Linked DNA regions of Homo sapiens: all the other regions are linked to region 1. Evidence: fine-mapped expression QTL. A gene starts in region 1. Each other region holds a variant in brackets. All regions are shown on one strand. Distances are between the middles of the regions.

The links. PIP is the estimated chance that this variant, and not a neighbour inherited with it, causes the effect. A credible set is the group of variants that fine-mapping cannot tell apart.
Region 2: its variant is the best candidate, but not a certain one, in a credible set for the expression of MTUS1 in coronary artery (GTEx, PIP 0.72).
Region 3: its variant is the best candidate, but not a certain one, in a credible set for the expression of MTUS1 in lung (TOPMed, PIP 0.80).
Region 4: its variant is the best candidate, but not a certain one, in a credible set for the expression of MTUS1 in skeletal muscle (GTEx, PIP 0.82).

What each region holds. Positions count from the first base shown.
Region 1 is chr8:17,798,385-17,803,764 of GRCh38, forward strand. MTUS1 (microtubule associated scaffold protein 1) reads right to left here and starts at 2,710. Exons shown (of 15, transcript NM_001363059.2): 1 at 2,677-2,710. It overlaps MTUS1-DT (MTUS1 divergent transcript), which reads left to right and starts at 2,958. Exons shown (of 3, transcript NR_186403.1): 1 at 2,958-3,358. RefSeq lists silencers at 2,824-2,943, 3,024-3,083, 3,124-3,313.
Region 2 is chr8:17,706,517-17,712,202 of GRCh38, forward strand. The region is part of intron 6 of MTUS1 (microtubule associated scaffold protein 1); the gene reads right to left. Among named protein-coding and RNA genes, the nearest start is that of MIR548V, 28 kb to the left of the region's middle. The variant A/G (reference allele first, on the strand shown) is at 3,138.
Region 3 is chr8:17,638,377-17,644,062 of GRCh38, forward strand. It overlaps PDGFRL (platelet derived growth factor receptor like), which reads left to right. Exons shown (of 6, transcript NM_001372073.1): 6 at 4,237-4,768. The coding sequence ends at 4,425. It overlaps MTUS1 (microtubule associated scaffold protein 1), which reads right to left. Exons shown (of 15, transcript NM_001363059.2): 15 at 5,426-5,686. Among named protein-coding and RNA genes, the nearest start is that of MIR548V, 40 kb to the right of the region's middle. The variant C/G (reference allele first, on the strand shown) is at 2,592.
Region 4 is chr8:17,658,423-17,664,108 of GRCh38, forward strand. The region is part of intron 8 of MTUS1 (microtubule associated scaffold protein 1); the gene reads right to left. Among named protein-coding and RNA genes, the nearest start is that of MIR548V, 20 kb to the right of the region's middle. RefSeq lists enhancers at 960-1,460, 3,258-3,552. The variant G/C (reference allele first, on the strand shown) is at 3,321.

The DNA.
Region 1 (5,380 bases):
TGCACTGGAGTGATCTCGGCTCACTGCAACCTCCACCTCCCGGGTTCAAGCGCTTCTCCTGCCTCAGCGTCCCAAGTAGCTGAGATTACAGATCCATGCCAACACAATTGACTAATTTTTTGTATCTTTAGTAGAGACGGGGTTTCACCATGTTGCCCAGGCTGGTCTCGAACCCCTGACCTCCTGATCCGCCCGCCTTGGCTTCCCAAAGTGCTGGGATTAGAGGCGTGAGCCACCGCACCCGGCTGGAAAATTTTTTTTAAATCTTCTACCACAGTCACATATAGTTCTGAAGCTACGATTTAGAAGTGTTAAAAATTCTGTTTTGAGAAAGTCAACAGATTTATCAACATTAAAGAAATTTGTGTATGTCAAAACTACTGTAAATATATAAAGCAAAGATAAAATGGGAAAAGTATCTGCAATATGAATGGCAAAGATTTACTATCAATCCATAAAAGGCTCTTATGAATTAATGGAAAAATACTAATATCCCAGGAGAAAAATCTGGCACTACATCAAATTTCAAAATGGAAAACAACTAGATTTCTTTGGTGTTCAAATCATCTGTAATCAAAGAAATTGAAGTTTAAATATAGAGAAAGCACTGTTCACCTATAAACCTGGGAAGAATTTTTTTTTTTTCCCTTTAAGGATGATTCTACATGTTGACAAGAATACGGTAACACCAGTATTCTCACAGAGAGCTGGTGGGAACATAATTTGGTTAAACATTTTTTGGAAAGCAAATGGTCAATATGTATGAGGAGATCTTCCAACCATCAACTGTATTTCAAGGGCACTAAGGATATTAACCCTGCACATAAAGTTTTAAAAACGTATTTGTTGCAAAAGTATATTTAGTAAGTGGAAATAAATGAAAACCAGTTTGATACATCTATGTAATGTAATATTAAGTAGCCACTAAGATTTCTGAAGATTTCATGACATGGAAAATTTTTCATGATACATTAATCAGGAAAAAACCTCCACGCAATAGTATATTTAGATAAACTATATAACTATAAAAAATTTTTCTATATATTAACAAGTATTTTCTTAAATATTAACTGTGATTATCTTTGCTGAAATTGCTTAACTCACTTTTCTCAATCTACCTATTTTTATACAGCAAGCACGGATTACTTTTGAAATCAAAACAAACAGGGTTAACAGAACAGGGCTATTAAGTAACAGGCTTTTTAAATGCTTGAGTGTAATAACTGCAGGTTAGTTTCCAAAAAATATAAGATATTATCTAGAATCTTATAATCCTATTATACTCCAAAATGTAACCTTGACTTATTGACATAATTAAAAGGTCTTGTTCCAAGCATGATTTTCTACCAAGCAGATTTACCAAGAATTATTTTCTCTTCATAAACCTGATTTTAAAAAGAACAGGTGAAAAAACGTGGTGCAAGTTACATAAATAACTACATATTATTTTAAACTAAATTCCACTTCTAAGGTTTTTTAGCTTTGGTTTTAAGGATAAGCATGTAGTTCTAATCTTTTCTTTGTATAGCTTTCCTAATGGAATATATTGCCTATGAAAAAAAAAAAATCTGTAACAGCACTTTCTACACTGTAAAGCACTGTACTAACAGGACATCACCATTTTAAGTTGTGTATCATTTCCTGCCCTAACCATCCCTGAAAAAGCAAACTGTCTACAGAATTGCAATTCCGTTTATGCAATTCCTTTTAAAGTTGTCCATGCACTGTTATCTTGTATATACCCTCCTTAAAGAGGTCACTGGTTCCCAGGAAGCAATGACTCTCTTTTTTAATCCCCTCCCTCCTGCATTGCCTCCCTTCCTCCTGAAATTCACTGGTAACACCCCTACTCCCACCCTCCAGCCCCAGCGCTGTGATTTAGTGATGATTGACTTTCGATCACCTGCACCTGGCAAAACTTGAAAGCTTCCACGCACCGTTTTGCCTAAGACTTTGGTTTCATTGAAACAAACAAAACACACTGGATTTCCTTTCTTAGAACACTGACTACTTCAAACAAACAGTATTTAACAGAGTATGTGTAACTACGCAGGCTAAATGAATTAACCTCTTCCTTCCTAGTCCCAAATTACTCCAAGTCAAAAATCAACAAACAACTTGGTAGAAAGGAGTACGTCTTCAAAAAAGAACAAAAACGTTCCTCAGTGAACACCTAAGTCCACTAAGCACTATAGAGTAGTCAATAAGGTCACCTTAATTAAGATGAGATTTTTCTAGAGCGTGAAAAAGTGCAAACAAGCTGCAGAAAGTAGCGAGGCGCCACGAGGGGTCTTTGGGACCTGCAGCAACCCTATTCCACCCGCTTTCTCGGCCCCGCTTGCTTCTGCTGAGAAGGGGCCCTGCGAGAAGGCTGGGACCGCCGGGCCCGGGTGGGCGGCGTAAGGAGTCCACAGTCAAGCCCCTCGGTCACTTTCAAGGTGACAGCGACGAGATCCGCATCCGTCCCTTCCGCAGGCTCTGCGCTGGCCCACGTGAGACCCGCCTCCGCTCCGCCGGCGCTGCCGCCCCCTTTAGCCCTCAGCTTCGGCCCCCAGGCCCCTGGAACGCCCCCTCCCCTCCCCGAGGACCGGTCCCGTCACCCTGGGCGGCGCGCTCGCCTGTCCCCTCCCCACCCCGGCCGCCGGGCAGCGGGAACAGATTCCAGCGCGCACTTACCCGCAGCTCCTTCAAGCGCTCCGGGAGCAAAGACGCAGAGGCGGGGAGGGCTGGCGCCCTTTGCACCACTGGCGGGGTCGCCGAGAACCCGCCCCGGAGGTCTCGGGGGCGGCGTCTGCACCTGGGGGCGCGCGGCGCGGCACCACCCCACGCCTGCGGCGGCTACCAGGCGGGACCCGGAGCCCCGGCCTCCCCGCCTCCCCGCCTCCGGGGCCGCCAGGGGGTGGAGCAGGGCGGGGAGTTCGGGAAACTTGTAAATAGCCGAACTCGGGCCTCCCGCCCCAACCCGGGGCGGCTCCTTCCGAAGGCTCCACTCCAGCGGCTCGCTGCGGGAGACCAAGGCCAGCCGCCGTCCCAGGGGACGGCCCTCGGGGAACCTGAATGACGTGCGAGGCCGTACCTCGGGGCGCTGGACTCCGCTCGGGCGCTCCCGCTCTCCGCTCCCGCTCTCGGGTCCCAATCCCGACGCTCCGCGCGCTCCCGGACTAAGTGCGGACGCGCCCCACGCCCCCCGGCGCCAGCCCGGGACAGCGCTGCACCTGTTGCCACGTGCGACGCGGCGCTCAGCGGCTGCCACTGCCGCCGGCGCACCTGGCTGCACCGCGCGTCCCGGGACCACGCTCGTCCCCGCAGGAGCCCGGGGCTCCGCCGCACCCAGCGCTAGGGCCCAGGCCGGGCCGCGGTAGGTGGGGGATCTGACTCCTGCTTGCCTCTGGCCACCTGCAGGCCGAGGGGCCTCGCACCGCGGGGCGTATAGAAGGTGGGAAGGTTGCAGAATTATCAGGGCGGAAGCTTGCAAGGAAGGAGTCGTGATTGTCTCTTAGAAGGGCTGATTCGCAGTCTGTATTATCTTCATGCTTCTAGCAAGTTTACTAGCAAGTGTGTATTAAAGGTTAAAGAAAGTAGCTTTCCAGCTATTAGAGCTTGAGATACAACGTGGAAAGGAGTCTAGAACCCCAGGGAGATAAACTAGGCTCGACCTACTTTTCTCTAAACACAAACACAGTCCTTGCTGTTTGCTAAACTGAGCAAATTTCATCGACAGCTGTCTTCTAGGTCCGTAAAATATTTTCTTCTATAAAGCATATTTTTAATAGAAAACTTGTCCGAAGATGCTATTCTGCCTGTGAGAGATGTCACATTGCTGAACCGTGAAATGTCAGACAACCTGAGAACAAAATTTTAATATTTCCTTTTTAATTACCTGGATTGTGGTTTGCTAAAAGCTTTTAAAGAGAAGTGAACTTTTTTGGAGAATAGACGTAAGGACTCTGTATTTCACAGTTTTCTATACCATGAATATTAGAATAACTGACAGATGTCTTGCCATTGATAGTTGTAAAGACTTTTCATATGTACAATGATCCATTATTTCCTGACTACAAAACCCAGGGGTATATAGGTCAGATTATCTCCATTATTCAAATGAGGAATTGAAGCTCAGAAAGGTCAAGTGACTAGCGCAAGGTCACACAGCCAGTGAGGGCAAGTGCAAACCCAGCCAGCCTAACTCCTAATCTTCTCTTTTAATTCCATTACATAATGACACCTCTCATTTGCTTCAGAAATCCCTGTTGTAAAGATAGATGCAACTAGCATGATCCGTGTTGTTAGGAAAGGCATGTGATTAATTTTAAATAGATATAGTATTTAACACCACCAGATGAGTCTCCCTCTGAAAAAGCACACAAAAACAAAACAAAACGCTGACATAGTTTCCGCAAGTCACGAGGCAATTATGCTAATTAGCAACAAGCCTCCATCCCTAAGCAGAATAGTTCTTGTGTGAAACATATCATTTAATCTTTATAACCCTGATGTGACCTAGATGATTTGGTCTAAACCCCACAATCCTATTGTGTGGCTTAGTTATATCTATAAATATAGAACCTGTTTTACTTCATTTTTGTGTCAGGTGGTTTGAAGGGGGGAAACATACAATGCTCTGCTAAGTAATTAGAGCTACTTACGCAGGCATTGGGGAATCTGAAACTTAGCTTCTAATTGTCTCCACATAAAAACAGAAGTTAACTTCTAGGGACATCTTCAGGGACTCCTCAAGGCAAATATTCATGAAATGGGGCCTATTGGCTTTTCTTTTCATCTTGGTTCTGGGCATGTTGCCATGTTCCTGATCTCTGAACTCTGATGCTGACCTGCTACAGACTCCAGGAGCAATATTAAGGATAAAATAATAACTCACATAACTTTGTGGCTCTTTATTCTAAAAAAAAAAAAAAAAGTTGGCTCAATTTTTTTTCCTCCATAAGAAAATGCAAATTGCAACTGTATTGAGAAACCATTTTTTCACTTATCAGATTGTCAAAGATTAGAAAGTTTGATAATCACAGTGTTGGTAAAAGTGTAGACTAGCAGTCACAATGAAAATGTAAATGTAAATTATAATGACCTCCCTAGGGGGAAGGTCAGGATACCTAACAATATTGCAACTATACGTATAAGAGTTTATCTTGGCCCTGCGTGGTGGCACGGTGACTCATGCCTGCAATCCCAGCACTTGGGGAGGCCGAGGCGGGCAGATCACCTGAGGTCAGGAGTTGGAGACCAGCCTGGCCAACATGGTGAAACCCTGTCTCAACTAAAAATACAAAAATTAGCCAGACATGATAGCAGGCGCCTGTAATCCCAGCTACTTGGGAGGCTGAGGCAGGAGAATCCCTTGAACCTGGAAAGCGAAGTTTGC
Region 2 (5,686 bases), 92 kb before region 1:
AAAAATTTAAAAATAATATCCAATGTTGACCCAAGGTATGATGAAGCCAGGTGTCTTTTATGTCAACCACGGTATAAAATGATATGAAGCTTTTGGAAAACAATTTGGCTATTTGAGTGAAGTGACTGTAAATGGGTACATATTGTGATTTCCTGATACTACTTTTAATAATCTATCACAAGAAATTGAAAGTTGAAAGTGCTAATTGTATAGATGTTCATCATAGAATCATTTATGAATGTGATACAGAAGCACCCTAAATATTCAAAAGTAGTTAAATGTTACTGTATCTGCTAAATGTAAAAGTGATTACTATATGTTAAATGACAAAGCAGGATATACACTTATCTAAATTTCATTTAAAACGACAAATTTTAAAAAGCTGAAGGGTGATTTCTAAACTACATGCTAAACTTTTTGAAGTTTGGCAAACTGCTATAATTAAAAGTGATTATTTTACTAGAACTAAGGAATATGAAGTTGGTCAACTCAACTGTAATCTCCACCACTACTTACAGCTTTAAAATAAAAATATCTCAAAGCCATAGTACAACGATTAAAAATTTACACTCAGAGGAACATGTTTATGTGTGGAGGCAATGTCTTCTGTATCAGCTAAAATATGACTCATTTCCAGCAGAATATGAAAAAAGTCAAGGTGATTTTCAGTCACAGAATATCACAGTAGGGAGAAATCTAGAAATCCACCCTTTCAGTTACATAGAAAACTATTATCAAAGAGGTTCAATGATCCACCCAAAGTCACTGGCTTTTCAGCATCATTTTTCAGCATCAAAGTCGTCTTTCCAAAGCAAACACACTTTGTTGTGGTCCTCTGTCCACACAGTAACTTTTCCTCACTAGGCTCCTCATAATACCAGGTTAGTCTTAAGTCATGATAATAACTAACCATCGAGAAGAACCTGGGAAAGTCATGCTTATGGTTTCGGGAAAATACAGAGGCCTACCACACAATCTAGATTAAGCTGCAATGTTGACCCCTTAGAATACATTCTATATATACAGAGTCATCTATAGATTCAATGTAACAGAAATTATTAGAATTGGAATTATTAGATTACATTCCTAAAACCTCACCTGACTTCATTACAGAGATTGACAAGCTGATCCTAAAATTCATACAGAAAATCAAGGGACCCAGAATAGCCATAACTATCTTGAAAAAGAAAGACGTTGAATGACTCACATCCTGATTTCAAAACTTACTAATCAAGACAGTGTAGCACTGGCAAAGGTAACATATAAATGCAAAGAACACAATTTAGAAATCAGAAATAAACCCTCACATTCTTAACCAATTATTTTTAACAAAGGTGCCAAGGCATTTAAATGGGGGAAATACATGTCTTCAACACCTGGATGTCCATGTGCAAAAAAGAATTAGACCTTCTATCTCATACCATATAAAAATGTAACTCAAAATGAATCAGAAACCTAACTATAACAGCTAGAATAGCAAAAAAAACTTAAATGAAAACACAGGCTTAAATCTTCACAACCTTGGATTAGGCAACTGTTTCTGAGATACAATACCAAAAGCAGAAGCAACAAAAGAAAAAAAGTTGATAAAGTGGACCTTGTCAAAATTTAAAACGTTTATGTTTCCAAGGACATTATCAAGAAAGTGAAAACACACCCAAGAATTGGGAGAAAATATTTGCAAATGATAACTCTGACAAGGGTCTAATATCAGACTATACAAGAACTCCTACAATTCAACAATAAAAATGACCCAGTTTAAAACTGGCAAATGATTTGAATAGACACTTCTCCAAAGAAGATATACAAATGGCCAGTAAGCACACGAAATGACACTCAATGTCACTGGCTGTCAGAATGCAAATTGAAACAACAATGAGGTATCACTTCATACCCAGTAGGGATAGCTATAATAAAAAAGACAGACAAAGCCAAGTGTTGACAAGGCTGTGGAGAAACAGGATTCTTCATACACTCCTGGTGAGGATATAAAGTGGTCCAGCCACTTTGGAAAACAGCCTGGAGGTTTCTTAAACTGTTAAACACAGAGCTACCAATTGAGCCAGTTTTCTGATAATGGTTAACTAATTTTTAAACAAAGCCATTCCATAGAATATTAGCTATCTTTTTTCCCCAGATATTAGGATGTACCAGAAACTTAAAAGGAAATAAAAGCCTAAATGTGTACAGCAGAGTTTCTTCTGCATTTTTACCCTATAAAGGCTTTAGTAACCACATATATTCACACTCAGCATCCTGGGGATCTTTAGAACTTAGATCATTCTGCATGGCTGTCTTCCTAGCTTTAAGAGCCTACAAAAGGTTACGAATTCTGAGATAGCTGGGCGCAGTGACTCACGCCTGTAATCCCAGCACTTTCGGAGGCCGAGGCGGGCGGATCACGAGGTCAGAAGATCGAGACCATCCTGGCTAACACGGTGAAACCCCATCTCTAGTAAAAATACAAAAAATTAGCCGGGCATGGTGGCAGGCGTCTGTAGTCCCAGCTACGCGGGAGGCTAAGGCAGGAGAACGGCGTGAACCAGGGAGGCAGAGCTTGCAGTGAGCAGACATCGCGCCACTGCACTCCAGCCTGGGCGACAGAGCAAGACTCTGCCTCAAAAAAAAAAAAAGAAAAAGAATTCTGAGATAATTTCCCCACACTTCCCTGCTTATTACACTGAGGAAACTGAATACACCTGATGGGGCATCAAGGATATTTGTTATTCATGTTATTCATGATGTAATGTTATCCCACCCTGTTTTCTTTACACAACAGGCTCAGAAATTTATACCTCTTGCCCAGGTTTCCCTCACATGACAGCCTTCAATCCGGACCTCTCTTCTAGGACAAGACAACCCTCCTTCCTAGAACTCAGTGCATTTGTGATTCATGTCTATTTGAGCAGGTTTTTTATTTTATTTTTTTAACTATCCTATTAGCTCTCCAGAGACAAGGCCCCTGCTCATTCTTCGCTCAGGACTGCATCCTTAACACCTGACACTCACAATGTGTGAACAAACTGTAGTCAACATTCTGTAACATTACATGCATACCTGGGAGATATATATCACCCCATAAGACACATGACATAATAAGGCAAATCACAAAAATTGTCTGGTTTCTCAGTGCATAT[A/G]AAACTTATATTAACACTACACTATAGTCTAGTGTGCAACAGCATTATGTCTAAAAAAATATATACCTTAATTTGCCAGGCGTGGTGGCTCACACCTGTAATCCCATCAGTTTGGGAGGCCGAGGCAGGTGGATCATGAAGTCAGGAGATGGAGACCATCTGGCTAACACGGTGAAACCCCGTCTCTACTAAAAATACAAAAAATTAGCCGGGCATGGTGGCGAGCACCTGTAGTCCCAGCTACTCGGGAGGCTGAGGCAGGAGAATGGCGTGAACCCGGGAGGCAGAGCTTGCAGCGAGCAGAGATCATGCCACTGCACTCCAGCCTGGGCGACAGAGCAAGACTCTGTCTCAAAAAAAAAAAACACCTTAATTTAAAAATATTTCATTGCTAAAAAATGCTAAAGATCATCTGAGCCTTCAGTGAGCAGGAATTATTTTGCTGGTGGAACATCTTGCCTCAATGTTGGTGGCTGCTGACTGACTGATTAGGGTAGTGGTTGCTGAAGGTTTGGGTGGCTGTGGCAATTTAAAGTAAGACAGCAATGAAGTTTGCGACATCAATTGACTCTTTCATGAAAGATTTCTTTGTAGCACGTGATGCTGTTTCATAGCATTTTACCCACAGCAGAGAGTCTTTCAAAATTGGAGTCAATCCTCTCAAACCCTGCCACTGCTTTAAGTTTATGGAATATTCGGACTCCTTTGTCATTTCAACAGTGTTCACATCATCTTTACCAGGAGTAGATTCCATCTCAAGAAGATACTTTATTTGCTTATTCATAAGAAGCAACTCCTCATCTGCTCAAATTTTACCAGAGATCAACAGCAATGCAGTCACACCTTAGGCTTCACTTCTCATTCTAGTTCTCATCCTATTTCTACCACATCTGCAGTGACTTCCTCCACTGAAGCACTGAACCCCTCAAAGTCATCCATGACGGTTAGGTCAGCTTCTTCCAAACTCCTATTCACGTTGGTGCTCTGACCTCCTCCCATGAATCACGAATGTTCTTAATGGCATCTAGAAGAGCAAACCCTTTTCAGAAGGTTTTCAACTGACTTTGCCCCGTTCCATCAGAGGAATCAGTATCTAGGGCAGCTACAGTCTTACACAATGTACTTCTTAAATAGTAAGACCTGAAAGTCAAAATTACTCCTTGATCCATGGGCTGCAAAGTGGCTGCTATGTTAGCAGGTGTGAAAACATCCATCTTCCTGTACTATACTCTTGTACTATATATTACTATGTAATACACTATACTATACTCCATCAGAGTTCTTGGGTGACCAGGTGCACTGTCAGTCGGCAGTAGTATTTTGAAAGACATCTCTTGAGTTGTAGGTCTTAACAATGGGCTTAATATTCAGCAAACCATACTGTAAACAAATACGCTGTCATCCAGGCTTTGTTGTTTCATTTATAGAGCACAGGCAGAGTAGATTTAACGTAATTCTTAAGGGCCCTAGAATTTTCAGAATGGTAAGTGAACGTCAGCTTCAACTTAAAATTACCAGAAGTATTAGCTTCTAATAAGACAGCTTGTCATCTGAAGCCAGGCACTGACTTCTCCTGTTTACCTGTGCAAGTCCTAAACAGCATCTTCTTTCAATATGAGGCTGTTTCACCTACACTGAATGTCTGTTGTTTTGTGTAGCCACCTTTATCAAATGATCCCAGCTAGATCTTCTGGATGACTCGCTGTAGCTTCTACATCAGCACTTGCTGCTTCGCCCTGTACTTTCATGTTATGAAGAGTTACCTTAAACCTCATGAACCAACCTCTGCTAGCTTCCAGCTTTTTTTTTTCTGCAGCTCCCTCACCTCTCTCAGCCTTCATACAATTAAAGAGAGTTAGGGTCTCACTCTGGATTAGGCTTTGGCCGAAGTGAAAGTTGCAGCTGGCTTAATCTTCTGGTCAGACCACTCAGACTTTCTCTCTGCCGGGAGTCTGTTTTGCTTTCTTATTTGAGTGTTCACTAGAGGAGCACTTTTAATTTTCTTCAAGAACTTTTCCTTTCCATTTACAACTTGGCTAACTGCTTGGCACAAGAGACCTGGCTTCTGAATTATCCTGGCTTTCAATGTGCCCTCCTCATTAAACTCAATCATTTCTATCTTTTGATTTAAAGTGAGAGACATGCAACTTTTCTTTCACTTGAATATTCAGAGGTCATTATAGGGCTATTAATTGGTTACTTTCAATATTATTGTGTCTCAGGGAATAAGGAAGACCAAGAAAAGGGAGAGAGATGGAAGAGGGACCAGTCAGTGGAGCACTTGAAATGCAAACGTATCAGCTGTGTTCACTGTCTTAGATGAGCATGGTCCATGGTGTCCCAAAACAATCACAACAGTAACATGGAAGATCACTGATCGCAGATCACCGTAAAAGATATAATAATAATGAAAAAGCTTGAAATAGTGTGAGAATTACCAAAATGTAACACACAGACATGAAGTGAGCAACTGCTGTTGGAAAAATGATGCTGGTAGAGTTGCAAAAAGCACAGTATTTGCAAGGCTCCAGAAAATGAGCGATGCTTGT
Region 3 (5,686 bases), 160 kb before region 1:
TCCAATTTTATTCCACCGTGGTCTGAGAGAGTACTTGATATAATTTCAGTTTTCTTAAATTTATTGAAACTTGTTTTGTGGCTTATGATATGGTCTCTCTTGGAGAATGTTCCATGTGCTGATGAATAGAATGTATATTCTGCAGTTGTTGGGTCGAATGTTCTACAAATAGCCCTTAAGTCCATTTGTTCTAGGTTATAGTTTAAATCCATTGTTTCTTTGTTGATGTTCTGTCTTGATTACCTATCTATTGCTGACAGTGGAGTATTGAAGTTCCCCACTATTACTGTGTTGCAGTCTATCTCATTTCTTAGGTGTAACAGTAATTGTTTTATAAATTTGGGAGCTCTGGCATTAGGTGCATATATATATATATATATATATATATATATATATATATATATATATATAATTGTGATATTTTCCTGTTGGGCAAGTCCTTTTATCATTACATAATGTCCGTCTTTCTCTTTTTTAACTGCTGTTTCTTTAACGTTTGTTCTGTCTGATATAAGAACAGCTACTCCTCTATAAGACAGGCCTGCACCTGTAATCCCAGCTACTAAGGAGGCTGAGGCACAAGAATCACTTGAACCTGGGAGGTGGAGGTTGCATTGAGCCAAGATTGAGCCATTGCACTCCAGTCTGGCCGACAGAGTGAGACTCTGTCTCAAACAAAACAAAACAAACAAAAAGAATAGCTACTCCTGCTCACTTTGGTGTCCCTTTGCATGGAATATCTTTTCCCAGCCCTTTACCATAAGTTTATGTTAGTCCTATTTGTTAGGTGAGTCTCTTCAAAACAGCAGATACTTGGTTGGTGACTTCTTACCCATTCTGCCATTCTGAATCTTTTAAATGGAGCATTTAGGCCATTTACATTCAACATTAGTATTCAGATGTGAGGTACTATTCTATTCATCTTGCTATTTGTTGCCCGAATACCTTGGTTTTTATTTATTTATTTATTTATTGTGTTTTTGTTTTATAGGTCCTATGAGATTTATGCTTTAAGAAGGTTCTATTTTGGTGTATTTCAAGGATTTGTTTCAATATTTAGTGCTCCTTTTAGCATTTCTTACAGTGCTGGGTTTGTAGTGGCGAATTTTCTCAGCATTTGTTTGTCTGAAAAAGACTGTATCTCTCCTTCATTTATGAAGCTTAGTTTTGCTGTACACAAAATTCTTAGATGATGATTCTTTTGTTTAAGGAGGCTGAAGGTAGGGCCTCAATTTCTTCTAGCTTGTAGGGTTTCTGCTGAGGAATCTGCTGTTAATCTGACATGTTTTCCTTTATAAGTTATCTGGTGCTTTTGCCTCACAGCTCTTAAGATTCTTTCCTTCATCTTCGCTTTAGATAACCTGATGACTCTGTGCCTAGGTGACGATCTTTTTGCAATGAATTTCTCAGGTGTTCTTTGAGCTTCTTGTATTCAGATGTGTAGCTCTCTAGCAAGGCCAGGGAAGTTTTCTTTGATTACTCCCTCAAATATGTCTTTCAAACTTTTAGATTTCTCCTCTTCCTCAGGAACACCAATTATTCTTAGGTTTGTTTGTTTAATATAATCCCAAACATCTTGGAGGCTTTGTTCATTCTTTTAAATTCTTTTTTGTTTGTCTTTGTTCGATTGGGTTAATCCAAAAATCTGATGTTCGAGTTCTGAAGTTCTTTCTTCTGGTTGTTCAGTTCTATTGCTAAGACTTTCCAATGTATTTTGCATTTCTCTAAGTGTGTTCTTCATTTCCAGAAATTATGATTGTTTTCTATTTTTGCTATCTATTTCACTGAAGATTTTTCCCTTCATATCCTGTATCTTTTTTGATTTAATTAAGTTGGAGTTCACCTTTCTCTGATGCCTCCTTGAGTAGCTTAATAACTGACCTTCTGAATTCTTTTTCTGGCAATTCAGGGATTTCTTTTTGGATTGGATAAATTGCTGGTGAGCTAGTGTGATCTTCTGGGGTGTTAAAGAAACTTGTTTTGAAATACTACCAGAATTGTTTTACTGGTTCCTTCTTATTTGGGTAGACTATGGTAGAGGGAAGATCTGGGGCTCAAGGGCTGCTCTTCATATTCTTTTGTCCCATGGGGTGCTCTCTTGATACAGTGCTCTCCCCCTTCCCCTATGTGTGTGGCTTCCTGAGAGCCAAACTGCAGTGATTGTTATTTCTCTTCTGTATCTAGCCACCCAGCAGAGTTACTGGGCTCTGGGCTGGTACTTAGTGGTGCCTGTACAGAGTCCTTTGATGTCTCAGGTCTCTCAGCCATGGATGCCAGCAGCTGCTCTAATGGAGGTGGCAGGGGAGTGAAATGGATGAACTCTGTGAGGGTCCTTAGTTGTAGTTTCGTTTATTGCACTAGTTTTGTGTTGGTCTTCTGCCAGGAGGTGGCACTTTAAAGACAGCATTAGCTGCAGTAGTATAGGGAGGATCAGGTGGTGGGCAGGACCCTAGAGCTCCCAAGAGATTATGTCCTTTGTCTTCGGCTACCAGGGTGGGTAGAAAAAGACCATTAGTTGGGGGTGGGCTAGGCGTGTCTGAGCTCAGACACTCTCCTTGGGCGGGTCTTGCTATGGCTGCTGTTGGGACTGG[C/G]GGTGTGGTTCTCAGGCCAATGGGGTTATGTTCCTCAGGGGATTATGGCTGCTCTGCTGTGTCATGCAGGTCACCAGGGAAGTGGGGGAAAGCCAGCAGTTACAGGCCTCACCCAGCTCCCACGTAGCCCAAAGGGCCGGTCTCACTCCCTCTGTCCCTGCCAACAGCACCGAGTTTGTTTCTAGGCAGTGGATGAGCAGGGTTGAGAACTTGTCCCAGGCTACCAGCCTCTTGGATAAGAAAGCAAACAGGGTTTTCAGATTTCACATCTCCTACCTGCCACGGTTTCTGTGCTGTGTCTGCACTCCTGCTTCACCCCCTCACCCGAGTTCTGTCCAGGAAACTGTGTTTGGTCAAAATTGTTACAAAGTTCAGCTAGAAGTTTCCTTCTCCCTGTGGTCTTTTCCCAGTTTCTCTGGTAGCCCTCTCCAGGGATCTCTGTGAGACAAAGTCAGAAATGGCTTCCTTGGGGACTGAGAGAGCCCATAGGGCTCTTTCTGCTGCTCCTTTCTATTCCTGTGTTTCACTTGGCTAGAGTGTTCTCTATACAAGCTGTGCCCATGGCAAGCTGCTGTGAGCAGACATCCACCAAGTGGACATAGACCACGCCAAAAAGGTGCTGTGAGGCCAGAGATAATTTTAAAGTAGACTTCTCATAAAAGCAATTGCAGCGTATTTAGCCCTTGTGCATGTTCTGCTTGCTAAAATAACAGCTCTGCTCCCAGCACGGAATAATCCCTTTGTTGCCAGAAGAGATTTGGCCTCCACAAGACACATTAAGTAGCTGACATCCTTCTGGCCTATGGGCTGTGATTGGTAGAAAATAACTGTCTCTGGGGAATAGTGTTTTCCGGCATCCTGGTACCAGGCACTTGATTATCAAACGTGTTGGTCATACTTACAGGACATTGATGATTTTCAATAGAGGTCCCCGCCACATTGCTATTTGGTATTTTATGAGAAAAGGTATTCACTTAGTGATATATTAGTTCTGTTACATGAATTCAGAAAATACTATGTTCTTATCACTGGAGTTGGGTGGACATCTCAAAAGTGACCATCGCACTTTGTAGAAATAGGGGTCCTGTCATGTAGTACATTATCTTACCCATCCTTGGTACAACTTTTCTCCCACTAGAGTCCTAAGGCACACTGGCCTAATCATACTTCTCCCTCTCTCAAATCTGAGCAATTGGGAGCTCTTAGTCATTTATACAGTGGGTGCTTTTTCAGGCTACTGACTTTCAGTTCTGTAGGTAAGAACCACTTAGCTAGGAAAAGAAAGTGGGCAATGTGAAGAACGGGGCCAGTGGAAAATTTTGTCCCTGCTTATGCTTAATACCAGTTCCACTTCCTTGGAGTTCTAAAAGCATACATTTTAGATTAAGTAAAACCTTACAGAAGAAAAGGGCAGAAAGACAGTGCCAAACAACGTAATGAAATTCAAGGGCTGTTTGGAAAAAATGCAACCTAAAATGATTCCAGTGTAGAAGCTTCCACAGCTTATGAGCTACGCATACTAAACAGTCTTTTATAAGCATGTGCTTTGCTCTCTGAAAGGAACGCTCAACAGTGTTGGGTGAGTGGGAGCTCTTTATAGCAGCTTGTCCCTCTTGCTTCAGTCTTTGTGGGTGTCGTTAAACAGGATGAAAGGCCTGTGACGATCCAAGACACTTGGAGGTTGATCCACAGAGGACTGGGACACACCACGAGAATCTCCCAGAGTGTCATTACAGTGGAAGACTTTGAGACGATTGATGCAGGATATTACATTTGCACTGCTCAGAATCTTCAAGGACAGACCACAGTAGCTACCACTGTTGAGTTTTCCTGACTTGGAAAAGGAAATGTAATGAACTTATGGAAAGCCCATTTGTGTACACAGTCAGCTTTGGGGTTCCTTTTATTAGTGCTTTGCCAGAGGCTGATGTCAAGCACCACACCCCAACCCCAGCGTCTCGTGAGTCCGACCCAGACATCCAAACTAAAAGGAAGTCATCCAGTCTATTCACAGAAGTGTTAACTTTTCTAACAGAAAGCATGATTTTGATTGCTTACCTACATACGTGTTCCTAGTTTTTATACATGTGTAAACAATTTTATATAATCAATCATTTCTATTAAATGAGCACGTTTTTGTAAAAAATAAAAAGTGGGATAAGTGTTTTTTAAGTTAAGTTGACTTAAAATACATCCAGAAAGACTTGGTGGTGGTGATACGTGGGTCAATACCAAGTATTCTCTTTTATATCACCGCAATATATTAGAATTTTAAAATGTACTAGATACAGTTCAACTACTTACCCACAAGCAACAACTCCAGACTCAAATGCTTAGAAATGTCATTTTGTCTTAGTAGCAACTTTAACAAATGTGAGTTAATTTATGAAGGTACTGAAAAAATTCAAGGACACTTCATTTTTTTAAACTGCTGCACTCAAAGGTGTAATTGTAGATTAGTCTATTCAATAACTAGAACAAGTTTTTAGAAGTTTAGCTTTCAATATGAAATAGATGCATAGATTAAGAACATTCAACTTTGTTTAGACATTTTTTACGATATTCAAAAATATTTACCAAGTTTGTCCAATTTTCTTATACAGCAGAAATTGTTACAGCCAGCCAAAATTTATTTGTCAAACATAGATAGCTTTGAATTTAGAGAAGAAGAGCTTACCTCTCACTCTAGCTCTGTGAGCCCATGACCAACTCTGCGGTTGCAGTGGAAATTCCTGGGAAATATAAACTAAGAGGAGATACGACCTTTACTGTGCTGTCACAGGGCTGTAAAAATGAAGAATTTGAAGAATGAAGTAGGTCAGAGGATGCAATTCTTGAGTATTCCAGCATTATTTATTTGATCAGAGTAAAATACACTTCCCATCACTACAAACTGAGCACAACTACAGTTGTCTACACATTCATATTTTTGACGTGCCAACATTTTGCATTCTACATGAAACATTTGGTTTAAACAAAATCTTAAGAATTCTCTATTTTGTTTCCCATCTTCCCTCCTGTTCTCTCCCATCCTCCAAAGATGTTTTATATTAACTGCTATGAGATTTATTTGCCGGTCACGTAATACGGAGGAC
Region 4 (5,686 bases), 140 kb before region 1:
GATATATGTACACACACTACAATAAATCCTAGAAAATCTTGAATTCCTTAGGAAGCCTGACTTTGGACATTCCCAGTCTTCTGTCACCGATGTGTAAATACAGGCAGACAGGGTACTACTGTAACTGTCAGGGATACACATGCTGTCCACATCCCCAGAGTACTCGTGGATTAATACGACAGGGTTGCTGGCAAATCTGTTAAATTAACCCTTACCTCTCTTTGGAAAGGAATAACATATCAGGAGTTGAAGGAAGAAGATTATTTTAGGGCACAGAAAAGGACAATTTAGATCAATAATTATTTGGCCTAAGGAACGTGAAAATGGCAGGTTCTTAGGAAGATTTCCTACAATGGTGTCAACTTGTTATCTCAGGAACCTGCCATGTGGTGGTAGAAATACCCAAGTCACTTGCCCCCAGTCAGTATTCTTTCAGAGGAAAAGGAGGCCACATTGAAATAATGGCAGGAATAGTGTCTGCCAAAGAGAACCCTTAAAAATTAAATCAATCTACAAATGTTTATTGAAGGGCAAAGATTTAACATTAAAAAAAAATCCCCAAAACAAAAACTATTTCTCGTTGCCTGGCACAGAATGGGGCTCTTTATCTTGTTTAACCCTCACAGAGGACCCTCCTAAACATATAGATAAGGAAACCGCCACAGAGAGGCTAAATCATCTGCCCAGGGGCACAGAGCTGGCAAGCGTGAGAGGATGGGTTTCGGTGAGCAGTCTGAATTCTGATTCTGCCTGCACCCAAAGCCCGTGCCCCTTCTTTTCTACCAAGCTGTTTCTTGTGCTGGGGCTGGCAAGGCGCATGATGGGGCCTCTACTGGAAGAGACAACAGACAGAGGAGAAGTGGCAGGACCAGGCCAGACCTTGGGGCCCAGGGAGTGGCACTCAGGATAGTTTACGTCCAGTCAGGGTGGACCAAAGGTTTGGTCAGATTTTTAAAACAATTAAAAAATAAATAAATAAAAACTGTGATGAGGGCTGGGCACAGTGGCTCACGCCTGTAATCCCAGCACTTTGGAAGGCCGAAGCGTGCAGATCATGAGGTCAAAATATCCAGACCATCCTGGCCAACATGGTGAAACCCCATCTCTACTAAAAATACAAAATTAGCTGGGCGTGGTGGTGTGTGCCTGTAGTCCCAGCTACTCAGCAGGCTGAGTGAGGCAGGAGAATCGCTTGAACCCGGGAGGCAGAGGTTACAGTGAGCCAAGATCGCACTACCGCACTCCAGCCTGGCGACAGGGAAAGACTTCATCTCAAAAACAAAAACAAAAAAACTGTGATGAAGCAGATACCAAATTAACCATTTTAATTATTTTTAGGTGTATGATTCAGTGGCATTGAATACACTTACATCGTTGTGTAAGCTTTGTCATCATCCATTCTCCAGAACGTTTCCCCCCAACCTGAAACTTCGTACCAATTAAACAGTAACAACCCATCCCCTCCCCTTCCCCAAGGCCCTGGCAGCGACCATTTTACTTTCTTTCTCTATGAATCTGACCATTCAGTACCTCATATACCTGGACTCAAATAGTACTTGTCCTGTTGTGACTGTTTATTTCATTTAGCGTATGTCCTCAAGGCTCATCCAAGCTGTGGGATGTGTCACAATTTCCTTCCTTTTGAAGGCTCAATATTATTCCATTGTTGGCCGGGTGCAGTGGCTCACGCCTGTAATCCCAGCATTTTGGGAGGCCAAGGCAAGCAGATCGCTTGAGTTCAGGAGTTCGAGACCAGCCTGGCCAACATGGTGAAACCCCATCTCTAGTAAAAATACAAAAATTAGCGGGGCATGATGGCGCACGTCTGTAGTCCCAGCTACTCGGGAGGCTGAGGCAGGAGAATCGCTTGAACCCAAGCAGTGCAGGTTGCAGTGAGCCAAGATAACGCCACTGCACTCCAGCCTGGGTGACAGAGCAAGACTCCGTGTCAAATAATAATAATGATAATATTCCATTGCACGTACAGATGACATTTGTGTATCCACTTACCATCCACGGACACTTGGGTTGCCTCCACCTTTGGCTACTGTGAATAATGCTGCTATGAACACCGGGGGACAAATACATGCCCGAGTCCCTGCTTTCAATTCTTTGGTGTATATACCCAGAAGGAATTGCTGACTCATATGGCAATTCTATTATTAATTATTTGAAGGACTATGGTACTCTTTTCCATAGTGGTTGAACCATTCTACATTCCCATCAGCAGTACTACACACAAGGGTTCCAATTTCTCCACATGCTCACCAGAACCTATTTGATTTTTTCAAATATATGTAACAGCCATCCTAATGAGTACATCACTGTGGTTATGATTTGGTCAGTAGATTTTCAAATTAAGCCATATGATAGAAATAAAATTGAGGCATCAAGGATGAAAATCCTATCCCAGCATGAGCAATGATGGGCGACAGAACGGTGAGCCTTGGTGATTAAGAAACTCACAAAGCAGAGAAGATAGAACCCAAAAAGACAGACGGAGGCCAGATTACAGGGGCCATCGCACGCAACTCAAGCCTTTGGGACTGAATATTAAAAGTTTCTTTTCTCCTTTAAAAGAATTTAGTGAAAGATAGTGATGGTCTTGACTGCTGGAGAACATTCTCTGCACATTCACTTTTCCTTCTATTACACTAGTAACCACAGAAGAAAAAATGACTCAAGAAGTCCAATGTTAGTCAAACGAGTAAACACTGCATTAGCTTCTGCCAAGTAACTTTCCGACTCTGAAGGCTCCTCGTGTGAATCTCGTATTAGAACTTTCTATGAAAACCTACAACAGAAACATACTTTGCAAGCCGTTGGTGAAGGTATCAAATAGCTTCTAGTCAGAGAAATTCTAGTTTCACGCAGGCTTTTCACTTGCTTCTCTTAAAATTTCCGGTATTTCCAAAGTTAAAAAATAAAAAAGCAGGAACAAGATCTGAACCCATCTGGAAGCTCATATCTGGGACAGAAACATCTAAGTGAACTCAGGGACTCAGCAATAAACAAGAGACTGCCTCCAAGCCCTGGGCTAGAAGAGCTTCGAAGCTGACGTTAATAGCAGACTACCCTGGCTGATTTTAACACATCTGTTTATGATAAAAATACTGTCGCTTTGAATATGTAATTGTGGCACATCAGCCTTTAAAACCAAATAGGATACACAGAAGTCCTTTCCTATTAGCCATGGGACAGGGCTGTTTCCCTCTATTCACCAAAAAAAAAAAAGGCAGCTCTGACGTTTTGATAAGTGAGGTGAAGAGAGGACACATGGGAAGAAACGGGAAAGAGAAAGGGAGAAAATGGGTCAGATG[G/C]GGGAACAGGAGGTTCACTGCTGTTATTGTAATAGTCCAAAGCAGCAGGCCCAGCCCCAGACAGTGACATCAGCCTGCAGCTGTGCACAGACCTTTGCTCTGTTTACTGGCCCGGTGTGCTGCTGGGGAACAGCTGGGCTGCAGTAATCGCTCACACTAATGGCTTTCGTTTGAAGGAAGTGGCCTGGGCTGCGAAGGAAACATTTATTTGGCATAAAGACTCATGAAGTATTTTTTAAAGGATGCACATGTAAACGCTGTATTAAAGGTTCTCAGAGTGCTCCTCGGCAGCTGTGACATAAACGTGTGTGTGTGGCGGTGGGGGGCGTGCATAACCCCGATTTTAGGCCATGGACTTTCCTGTGCACTGACTACAGCTTAGGAGAGATTTATGGTGCCACCTGTGTGTGCTCTCACTCCTATCCTCAGCCTAGTCTCTTCTTGCTCATTCTCCAGAATTCCACTCACTTTCAATTAATCAGACACCCCACAAAGCCAAAACCAAACATAAAATTGTTTCGAATTTGCAACAAGCAAGCATGGACATGCGAATGTTTGAAAGAAGGTATTAGACAAACACAAAGTCAAAGTAGTCTTTTTGTCCCTATTTTTTTTTTTTTTTTTTTTTTTTGAGATAGAGTCTCGCACTGTCACCTGGGCTAGAATGCAGTGGCACGATCTCGGCTCACTGCAACCTCCACCTCCCGGGTTCATGCGATTCTCTTGCCACAGCCTCCCGAGTAGCTGGGACTACAGGTGCACACCACCACACTTGGCTAATTTTTTGTTTTTTAGTAGAGATGGGGTTTCACTATGTGGGTAAGACTGGTCTCGAACTTCTGGCCTCATGATCCGCCCACCTCAGCATCCCAAAGTGCTGGAATTACAGGTGTGAGCCACTGTGCCTGGCCTCTGTTGTTTTAATCATTCCATTAGTCTATTTTTTAAAAAAGCACATATATGATTAGGAACACCAACAGACCACCATCTGTAGGAGAACTGCTGGGCAACTTTTGTATACATGTTTGTAAACCATGAAAGCTATCTCCAGCAATCTAGCTTAAAAGAGGAAATACAGTTCTCAGGATTTAAGGAAAAAGAGAAAAAAAAAAAAAGAAAAAGGAAGAAAGGAGGAAGGGAGGGAAGGGGAGGAAGGAGAAGAAGGAAAGGAAGGCAAACTCATGTACAAAAACATCTCTAAAATGTAAGGCCACATTGAGATTAGAAGTCAGTATTTTCACTCTGCAATGAATCACCCAAGAAGAATTCTAGGCCAGTGACCCTCCCTGACAGTTTAAATCATGGATATCTCAGCAAGAAAAAAAAATCGTAATCAGTGAAATGCTTTAAGTTTTGCTTTTCAAGTAATTATCAAGATGATATGTGGAAAATGCCCAGTGCCACAGTCAAACATAATCTCTGGAAAACAGAGCTGGAGTCCTCCCAGGTCCTTCATTACTTAGCCCTGCAGAACTGGAGTGGAGCCATTACTTAATTAGTCCTCATGGCTTTTTCTCAGAGGGGAAGGTCAGACTTTTATTATTTCCATCTCACAGAGACTCATTTCCCTTTGTTGATTGATAAATGTACTGTTTACAGAGAAAAGCATTACACAGCCATGGCCCGACATTGTTAATATTCTTTTGAAATGATACAGTGCTTTCCTAGTTTTTATATCTGAGTAGCATGGTTCATTATGAGACGACCAAAAATATTTTAATGCTCAAGAACATAAATAAATGTCCTAATAGGATAGAGCCAAAATTACTTGGGTTCAAATCTCAGTCACACCACTCAGCTGCTACATCACTTGAGCAAATTACTTAAACTTTCTAAGCCTACTTTTTGTTTTGTTTTGTTTTGTTTTTTTTGAGACAGAGGCTTCCTCTATCACCCAGGCTGGAGTGTAGTGGCACAATCTCAGCTCACTGCAACCTCGGCCTCCCAGGTTTAAGCGATTCTCCTGCCTCAGCCCCCTGAGTAGCTGGGATTACAGGCATGCACCACCATACCCGGCTAATTTTTGTATTTTTAGTGGAGACAGGGTTTCACTACGTTGGCCAGGCTGGTCTCGAACTCCTGACCTCAAATGATCTGCCTGCCTCGGCCTCCCAAAGTGCTGGGATTACAGGCATGAGCCACCGCACCTGGCCTAAGCCTACATTTCTTCATTTTTAAAGTGGAGATATTATTAGTCCCTTCTCTAGAAGATGAAATAGCACAGGTGAAGCACTCACCCCAGTGCCTGACCACAGTAACTTTGCAGATAAATTGTATAACTGTTACGGCTTGCAAGAGTCCATTGATTCCAGTGTGTTTGAAGACTCCTGGAAGACAGGCTTAGGGTTCCATAACAGAAATATAAC